Homo sapiens: one gene and its partner. The protein of the gene in region 2 binds, or shares a complex with, the protein of the main gene of each other region. Each region holds a gene or a part of one and is shown on either strand. Other genes may lie near its edges. The genes, in order: TTF2 and PPP1R8.

Region 1 (3,918 bases), about 89 Mb from region 2:
TTTCACTCTGTCACCAAGGCTAGAGTGCAGTGGCACAATCACAGCTCACTGTAGCCTCAAACTTGTGGGCTCAAGCCATCCTCCCACCTCAGCCTCCTGAGTAGCTAGGACCGCAGGTGCCCACCACCATACTCAACGGGCATAAAAATTAATTTTAAAAATGTTTCCAGTTATGACCATCTTTCGTCCAATCTCAAACTTATTTTTTTCAATCTTGTAAATATGATGAGGTGGAATAAGTTGTCCAGGGACTTAACATTTTGATCTAGTATATTTTTAATTTATGGAAGAAATATTCCTCCTGTCTGTGATTTGGCTGTGCACACTTTTGTGAGGTTGGACTGGAGATACCGACTTGGGTACTTGCAGAGGAGGAGCTTCTTCCTTAACGGGATATTTAAGAGGCCCCGATTTTGCCTTGTTTCGAAAATTATTCAAGAAATAATTAATTACCATGCCCCTCTTTCTGCAAATCCTGTATTCATGGTATACTACCTCCAATACAGCATCTATTAAACATGTACAAATACATCATTTGCAAGAATAACAATCTTGGAATAATGAAAATGCTTCTACCTATTTGTTGTTCCTGTCTTATCTCTAAGTTCATCTAAGTTTCGGAAGGGTAGTTATGTATAAAGGAACTTCACTTTGGAAATTCCATTTTTCTCTAGTCCTAGAGAGTTACTGCTAACTCCATTCATTTTGACATTTAAATACTATTTTATATTGTTATTTAAGTGTTCAACATGTACTAGTTCAGTCTCCTCAAAATACTGAGTAAGTTCCTTGTGCTTAGAATAGTTGTTTCAAACTTTGTGTGTGTGAATGAATGAATTTTACATTTCTCAAGCACCTAGTCCACAACGGGCACAAAAAAGCTATTTAGTAAGTACTGTTTAATTAATAAATGATACCTCAGGTTTGTCTCCCTTCCTCCGGATCCCCATAACATGTACATTTATCACATCGCCCAGATTTCCTAGACATTACAGATTTTCTGTTCTACGGCCCCCATAAGAACAGTGCAGGTGCCACACCATATGTCTGGGACATATGGTCCTCAATAGCTGCAATATGAAACTATTTCTATTGCAATAAATCTAATATCTATTCCTCTCTGTTTACTAATAGTTTTGATTACAACTTCAAATTTTAAAAATCGAGGATGAAGTTAAATAGAAGGGAACTGTCCCCTTTCTTCTATTTAACCTCGTCTTCGATTTTTAAAATTACAAAAGCATAATAGTAAAAAAAAGTTTGACAATACAAAATGATAAAGTAAAATTCGCCTTCACCAAAAGTCATCTATTTCCCCTTCTGTGGTTTCCACGTTGCGGCTGGTAACTCGGGGCTTCCACGCTGGGCGAGCCTAGAGAACATCCAGTACACACAGGAAGCAGCAGCGCGGGCCAAATGGCGCTGAGACCTGCGCACCTGTCCACGGACCGCCCACTCGCCAACTCTGACCTTGGGTGAGTCTCTCAAACTTGAGTCTCGGAATCTTCCACAAAATGCTACCCATCTCACCAGGTCGAGTGAGGAGGGTCGTGTTATGTGTAAGCACTTTGTGAAATCTAAAGCACGAGGCAAACGTAAAGCATTGTAGGGGGTCCTAGAGAAGTCTTTGTGCCTGCCTATCAGAGCCGTTTCAGTTCCCCGCAGCAGCTTCCAAGGACCTCCCACCATGCCCGCCGCTTCGGCTCCTGCACTGCAAATCTCGCGGCTCGGCCTGCAGCGGCGGCTTCCCCTGGCCTCCCACCCCAGCGACTGAGCGCGGAGCCCAGCGCGCACGAGCGCCAGCCTGGCTCAGAGACACCCACGAAGCCAGGGCCTTTCAGCGCCTGCTAACTGGCGCTACCCCTAGGGCCGCCTCTCGGTTTTAAACGTAAACAAGAGTTGCCCTTCCGTCTTCCAAGACCTGCAAATCGAAGCTTCTTTTCCTCCAGAAGCCCCGCCACCTTCTAAGCTTCTCCCCAGCCTCAGCCACGCCCCAGCCTGCAAAAGCCGGGTCCTTTACGCCCCCTGGCTCCGTATTTGATTTCGGCGCGCGCCATACCTGAGGGCAGCTGTGATTGGTTGGAGGTGAGCGAAGTTCCTATATGATTGGCTGATAGCGGCTAGGACGGGTGAAGGCCAAGGGCGGAGAATTATGGGAGGGATTAAGACTGCAAGAGCTGAGTGATGGTTGGTTCCTGAACAAAGAGGGCGGAGTAAAAGGCGGAAGCAGAATTGGGGGCGGGGCTTTGTGGAACTTGGGGGACCCAGCGAAATGGAAGAAGTTAGGTGTCCAGAGCACGGTAAGGGGCTAGGGTCTCAGCGTCCCGGGGCCTGTTGATTTAGCGTGGCGTAATCGTTGTTCACTTTCTTCTCTCTTCAGGGACTTTCTGCTTTCTTAAGACCGGCGTCCGCGATGGCCCGAATAAAGGAAAGAGCTTCTACGTGTGCCGGGCAGACACGTGCAGCTTCGTGCGGGCCACCGAGTAGGTCTGGAGCTGGGCCCCACTCCCTGTGGCTGCCCGGGGCCTCCCGAGAGGAGCTTCCCGCTCCCCGCTGTCGGGCGTCACAGGGCCGAGGAGTGGTGGGGCCCTAGTTTGCGGTGTCAGGACCCTTTAAGCAATTGGTGATCCCAGGGCAGCGTGGCGTGTTCGGAAGACGCCCAGCTAATTCTGGCTGTGTGACCCGAGGCTGGTTACCCCCCTCTCTGGGCCGATGGTTCCCCTACCTGTAAAATTGAGGATCCGGTGTTTTCCAGCTCTGGGTTTCTATTCACTTGACAGGCCTTAACCACTCCCTTCTCCTGCCCAGACAGTCCCTCCCCCTTTAAAGGAGTAAGGACACACAGCAGACATAGTGGAAAATAATTTGTCCCTGTTTTGCACTAGTTTTAGGCCCGACGGTTTTTTTTAAATGTTTGAGCTTAAAACACTCTAGTGATTAGTTGTTAGCCTTCTTATTTTTAAGTAGGATTCTCTGCATCTAAATGGTGAAATTGATAATTCAAAGAAATTAGCGCTGGAAGAAACAACGGAGGGCCTGGCGCGGTGTGTGACGCCTGTAATCCCAGCACTTTGGGAGGCGAAGGCGAGCGAATCGCTTGAGCCCAGGGGTTCGAAACCAGCCTGGGCAACATGGTGAAATCCCGTCTCTACGAAAAATTAAAAAAAATTGTCTAGGCATGGTATCACACGCCTGTAGTCCCAGCTACTCGTGAGGCTGAGGTGGGAGGAGAGAGTCAGAAATGTTAAGCATCTTCTCTAAAGTGAGGAAAGTTAATAGTTTGTCAAGTGTTAATGTTTTCACAGTACCAAGTGTCTACATTTTCTATGTGAATTTTAAAACTATCATCACATCATTAAACATCTCCTGCTCTCTATTCAGCAAAACTTGGTAGAGAAAAGTTATTTTTCTCCGTGTCAGATGTAGAGTACATAATGGATATCAGTATTAGAAAAGTGCCCTTTCAACATGTATACTAACTTCCCATGTTTCTGTTTCATGAGTTAGATGATTTACACTGAGCCTCTCAGATATAGTACCCAGGTCAAGTTTTGTGAGATAGAAGCATTTTTACCTTTGCAGGAATTCAACATTAATGGTGGCATAAGATTTGGTTTTACATTAAGAGAAACACTCTTATTTAGGATCCCATCTACACAAATGCTTTGCTATACAAACTAGCACAGTGGTATTTGAAGACAATTATTTGATAAACTTGATTTATTTGGACTATATCTGATAACCAATATACAGGCCAAAAAAAGTGCCACAGGTTTAGGAGAGTACTTTAAACCTTCACTCAAACCTGTTTACTCTCAAATGTTATATATATTTAAATTTTTTCATAATAAGTTGGAAGGGAGTGATTAAAAACTTACACAAAACAAGAAGCATATAGGGCGTATTGTTAGAGGTAGG
Region 2 (3,918 bases):
TTCTCCTGACCTCGTGATCTGCCCTCCTCAGCCTCCCAAAGTGCTGGGATTACAAGCATGAGCCAACCGCTGCGCCCGGCCCAACTTTTCTTAATTCTATTAGATATAAGTGGCCTGCCCTCAAGACAGTAACAACTCTTTTTTTTTTTTGAGACGAGTCTCTGTCACCCAGGCTGGAGTGCAGTGGCGTGATCTCGGCTCACTACAAGCTCTGCCTCCCGGGTTCACACCATTCTCCTGCCTCAGCCTCCCGAGTAGCTGGGACTACAGGCGTGTGCCACCACGCCCAGCTAATTTTTTGTATTTTTAGAAGAGACAGGGTTTCACCGTGTTAGCCAGGATGGTCTTGATCTCCTGACCTCATGATCCACCCGCCTCAGACTCCCAAAGTGCTGGGATTACAGGGGTGAGCCACCGTGCCTGGCCTGAGATCAACAATTGTATGAAGAGTGGCTGTCTTCTGAAAAAAGGTTCTGTTGGATCTTAATTTTAGATCAATTAGGAAACAAGAAGCACAATGCATGTCTATAAGGTAACAAGATTGCTTTTAGCCTAGTGAAACCGAAAAAAATTGTAATAAGATTGCTTCTCAGAAAATAAACATTCAAATGTATATTTGGGAAAGGAATGAAGTGTAAACACCTATTTCTATTCTAATCATGCTGCCATAGTCCCAAAGTATTTTTGTTTGTTTTTGAGACAGTCTCAAAACAAACAAGTTTCACCATGTTGCCCAGGCTGGTCTCGAACTCCTCACCTCAGGTGAATGGCCAGCCTCAACCTCCCAAAGTGCTGGGATTACCGGTGTTAGCCACCGTGCTAGACCTGAGCTAAATTTAGCTTTATAAAAAACTTGCTGGCCGGGTGCGGTGGCTCAAACCTGTAATCCCAGCACTTTGGGAGGCCGAGGCAGGCGGATCACAAGGTCAGGAGATCAAAACCATCCTGGCTAACACAGTGAAACCCCGTCTCTACTAAAAATACAAAAAAAAAATTAGCCGGGCGTGGTGGCAGGTGCCTGTAGTCCCAGCTACTCGGGAGGCTGAGGCAGGAGAATGGCATGAGCCCGGGAGGCAGAGCTTGCAGTGAGCCGAGATCGGCCACTGCACTCCAGCCTGGGCGACAGAGCAAGACTCTATCTCGAAAACAAAAACAAACAAAAAAATAAAAATAAAAAACTTGCTATACCTGTCCTTATATTTCTTTTAATCCTGGATCAGTAAAGCCTTTGCCACAGATCGGTTATAAACTGGACTGTTATAGATGAAGGACTCTAGATGAATTATTGCTAAAGCTTCTTCCAGTGCTAGTGGTCTAGTAATCCAGTGGGAGCACTTGAGGAATAACTCTCATTTGGGTATGTTGTGTTTTTCCTTTAAACATGAGGTCTCATTAAACGCTAGTTCACATTTCACACTATAGTCCTAAAATCCCTGAGAAAATATAGCATAAAGCTGAGTAGAGTATAGTCAAGTTAGTACCCGGCTGGGAATCAAGAAGCTTATATTTCATTCCTGGCTAAGTCCTTTAACTCACAATGGGCTGCTATTATCCCCTTACAAAACCAAAAGATACACCTCATGCAAGCACAATTTCAGCACTGATTACAGTAACAACTGCTAGGCGCTTCTATGCCACACACTATGCTATGAGTTTTACATTATATCATTTCATCCTCACAACCACCCTATGAGGTGGGTAATACTATTCTCTTCCTATTTTTATAAATGACAAAATTGAGGCATAAAGAAATTAACATACTCAAGTTCACACAGTTAGATACTTGTGGGCCGGGTTAGAAATTCAGATTTGTCTGGCTTCAGAGTCTAAGCTGTTTTAACCACATTATATATTTTCTTCATTCTACTTACATCAAAAAATGCACCATATGGCAAGGAATATTTTAAGGAGAGAATAAGTACTGTGGGTCACACTCTTTTCCTTAAACAATCACTTAGCCAGTTTCTTTCAAGCTCAGCCTTAAGGTTCAATTAATTCAGGCTAGCTTGGATATGTGGGTCACCTCTGGGAAACCCTATCTGGCAGTGCCCATCTGCTGCTGGAAGAGCTTGTTCTGGGCCCACACTACTATGGAGAACCAAGATTCAACAACAGCCTGACAGCTCAGTCAGTCACCTTCATGTCTGCTTTGACCCAAGGTTTTTAAGACTTGAGTTAAAAATAAGACATTATTTCAGGATTAAGAGAGAGCCCAGAAATTTCAACAACTTGTTCTCTCTAGGTAATAGTTATTTGGGCTGAATCTCATTGCACTTCTCATTCATATTTATATGCACATGGATTATGCTGTCACAAACTTAAATTTGCTAACCACAGTGCTCACAGATTGTGCTGAAGGAACATGAAAGACCACCAGCTCTTGGGTTCTAAAATAACAATGACTAAATTTCTATGAATCTAGGGTGCCAAAAGACATACTAGAGATTTAGGGATTTCTTTGAGAGGAAAAAAAAAGAGTGCCTCCAAATTAAATGTACACATTCAGTATTAAAGGCACCCCAATTACAGAAATGTTAAAATGAATGAATTTTTTTTTTGAGATGGAGTCTTGCTTTGTTGCCTAGGCTGCAGTGCAGTGGTGCAATCTCCACTCACTGCAAACTCTGCCTCCTGGGTTCAAGCGATTCTCCTGCCTCAGCCTCCCAAGTAGCTGGGATTATAGGGGTGTGCCACTGCACCTGGCTAATTTTTTTACTTTTAGTAGAGACGGGGTTTTGCCATGCTGGCCAGCCTGGTCTTGAACTCCTGACCTCAGGTGATCTGCCCGCCTCGGCCTCCCAAAGTGCTGGGAGGCCAGGTGTGAGCCGCCACCGCACCTGGCCAAAATGTATGGAATTTTAACAGAAAACAGTATGTCTTAGAACCAAGGAAATGTGTTAGATGTTGAACAATGTGCTGCTTCTGTCCAAGTGAATGAAATAATGCACTGGCTTTCAACAGTCACTAAAGCCGTAGCTTCTTGACTAGCTATGGCCAGTACTGCTATCCAGTTGTGCCTCTGAGTTATAACTCAGAGTGTATCTTTACACACTGGGCTTAAAAGACTCATGGCTTTTGTTTTAATATTGCACTTCTTAAACCCAGCTATCACAACACATCACAAGCCTTTGACACAAGGCTAGGATATAGACAGCTCGGTTAGTATCAAGTGCTGATCAAGTTTAAATCTAAAAATAAGCACATCTCAGGTCTACGCCTCTCAAGAATACAGTGATGTCTAAGGATTGTAACTTGACAACTTTGTGGCAACTCAGCACACTTAACAACATCGAAAGAGAACGTTATCAGCTAATAGACACCAATGATCAGAGGAGTGTCTGGCAAGTTAGAGTGTTTTGAAAATGTAATACCAATTATTCCACAAAGGAATGTGATGTTATCATTAAGACTAGGCAACCCTGTCTGTTTCTTCCTGTTGCAAACTAAAGATTTGCTAAATTCTAGTAATAAAACAGATCCCTATATGTCTTCAAGCTTTGTGCTATTCAGCAACAAATATTTTGTAACTGTGGAACAATCTATAGCAAAAAAGGTTTTACAGATATTTTAGCTAAATTATTTCTTTGAATAATCTTGAGGTTTTAAATCTTTAAGAGAGAAGAACCCATGACAAAGGGGCTCTCTGTGACTGGCTGAGTCCATGATGTATTCATAACAGGAGAAATCATTAAAACTCGTGCATGCCTTAATACTTTGCAAAATACCTGGTTATCTCTACAACATCTCAAAAGTGACAACAATATATTTACAGAGTAACCTTCAAAAGATCTCAGATAGCTTTTCAATCTAGCAACCGTGGAACTGCAACATTTTTATTAAATACCAAAAAACCACAATGAAAAAACTGCATTCAATAATGGGGCCTTGAACCTAAATTCTAGCTGAGCAAGCAAATAT

The links.
Region 1: PPP1R8 (region 2) and TTF2 share a complex: the UniProt entries of both Homo sapiens proteins name them as parts of the spliceosome.

What each region holds. Positions count from the first base shown.
Region 1 is NC_000001.11:117,058,075-117,061,992, forward strand, and holds the start of TTF2 (transcription termination factor 2), read left to right. Parts: upstream 1-2,251; 5' UTR 2,252-2,272; coding exon 2,273-2,300; intron 2,301-2,380; coding exon 2,381-2,483; intron 2,484-3,918. UniProt on the Homo sapiens protein: DsDNA-dependent ATPase which acts as a transcription termination factor by coupling ATP hydrolysis with removal of RNA polymerase II from the DNA template. May contribute to mitotic transcription repression. May also be involved in pre-mRNA splicing.
Region 2 is NC_000001.11:27,833,658-27,837,575, reverse strand, and holds part of PPP1R8 (nuclear inhibitor of protein phosphatase 1), read right to left. Parts: intron 3,176-3,918; exon of another isoform or gene 3,010-3,175; intron 1-3,009. UniProt on the Homo sapiens protein: Inhibitor subunit of the major nuclear protein phosphatase-1 (PP-1). It has RNA-binding activity but does not cleave RNA and may target PP-1 to RNA-associated substrates. May also be involved in pre-mRNA splicing.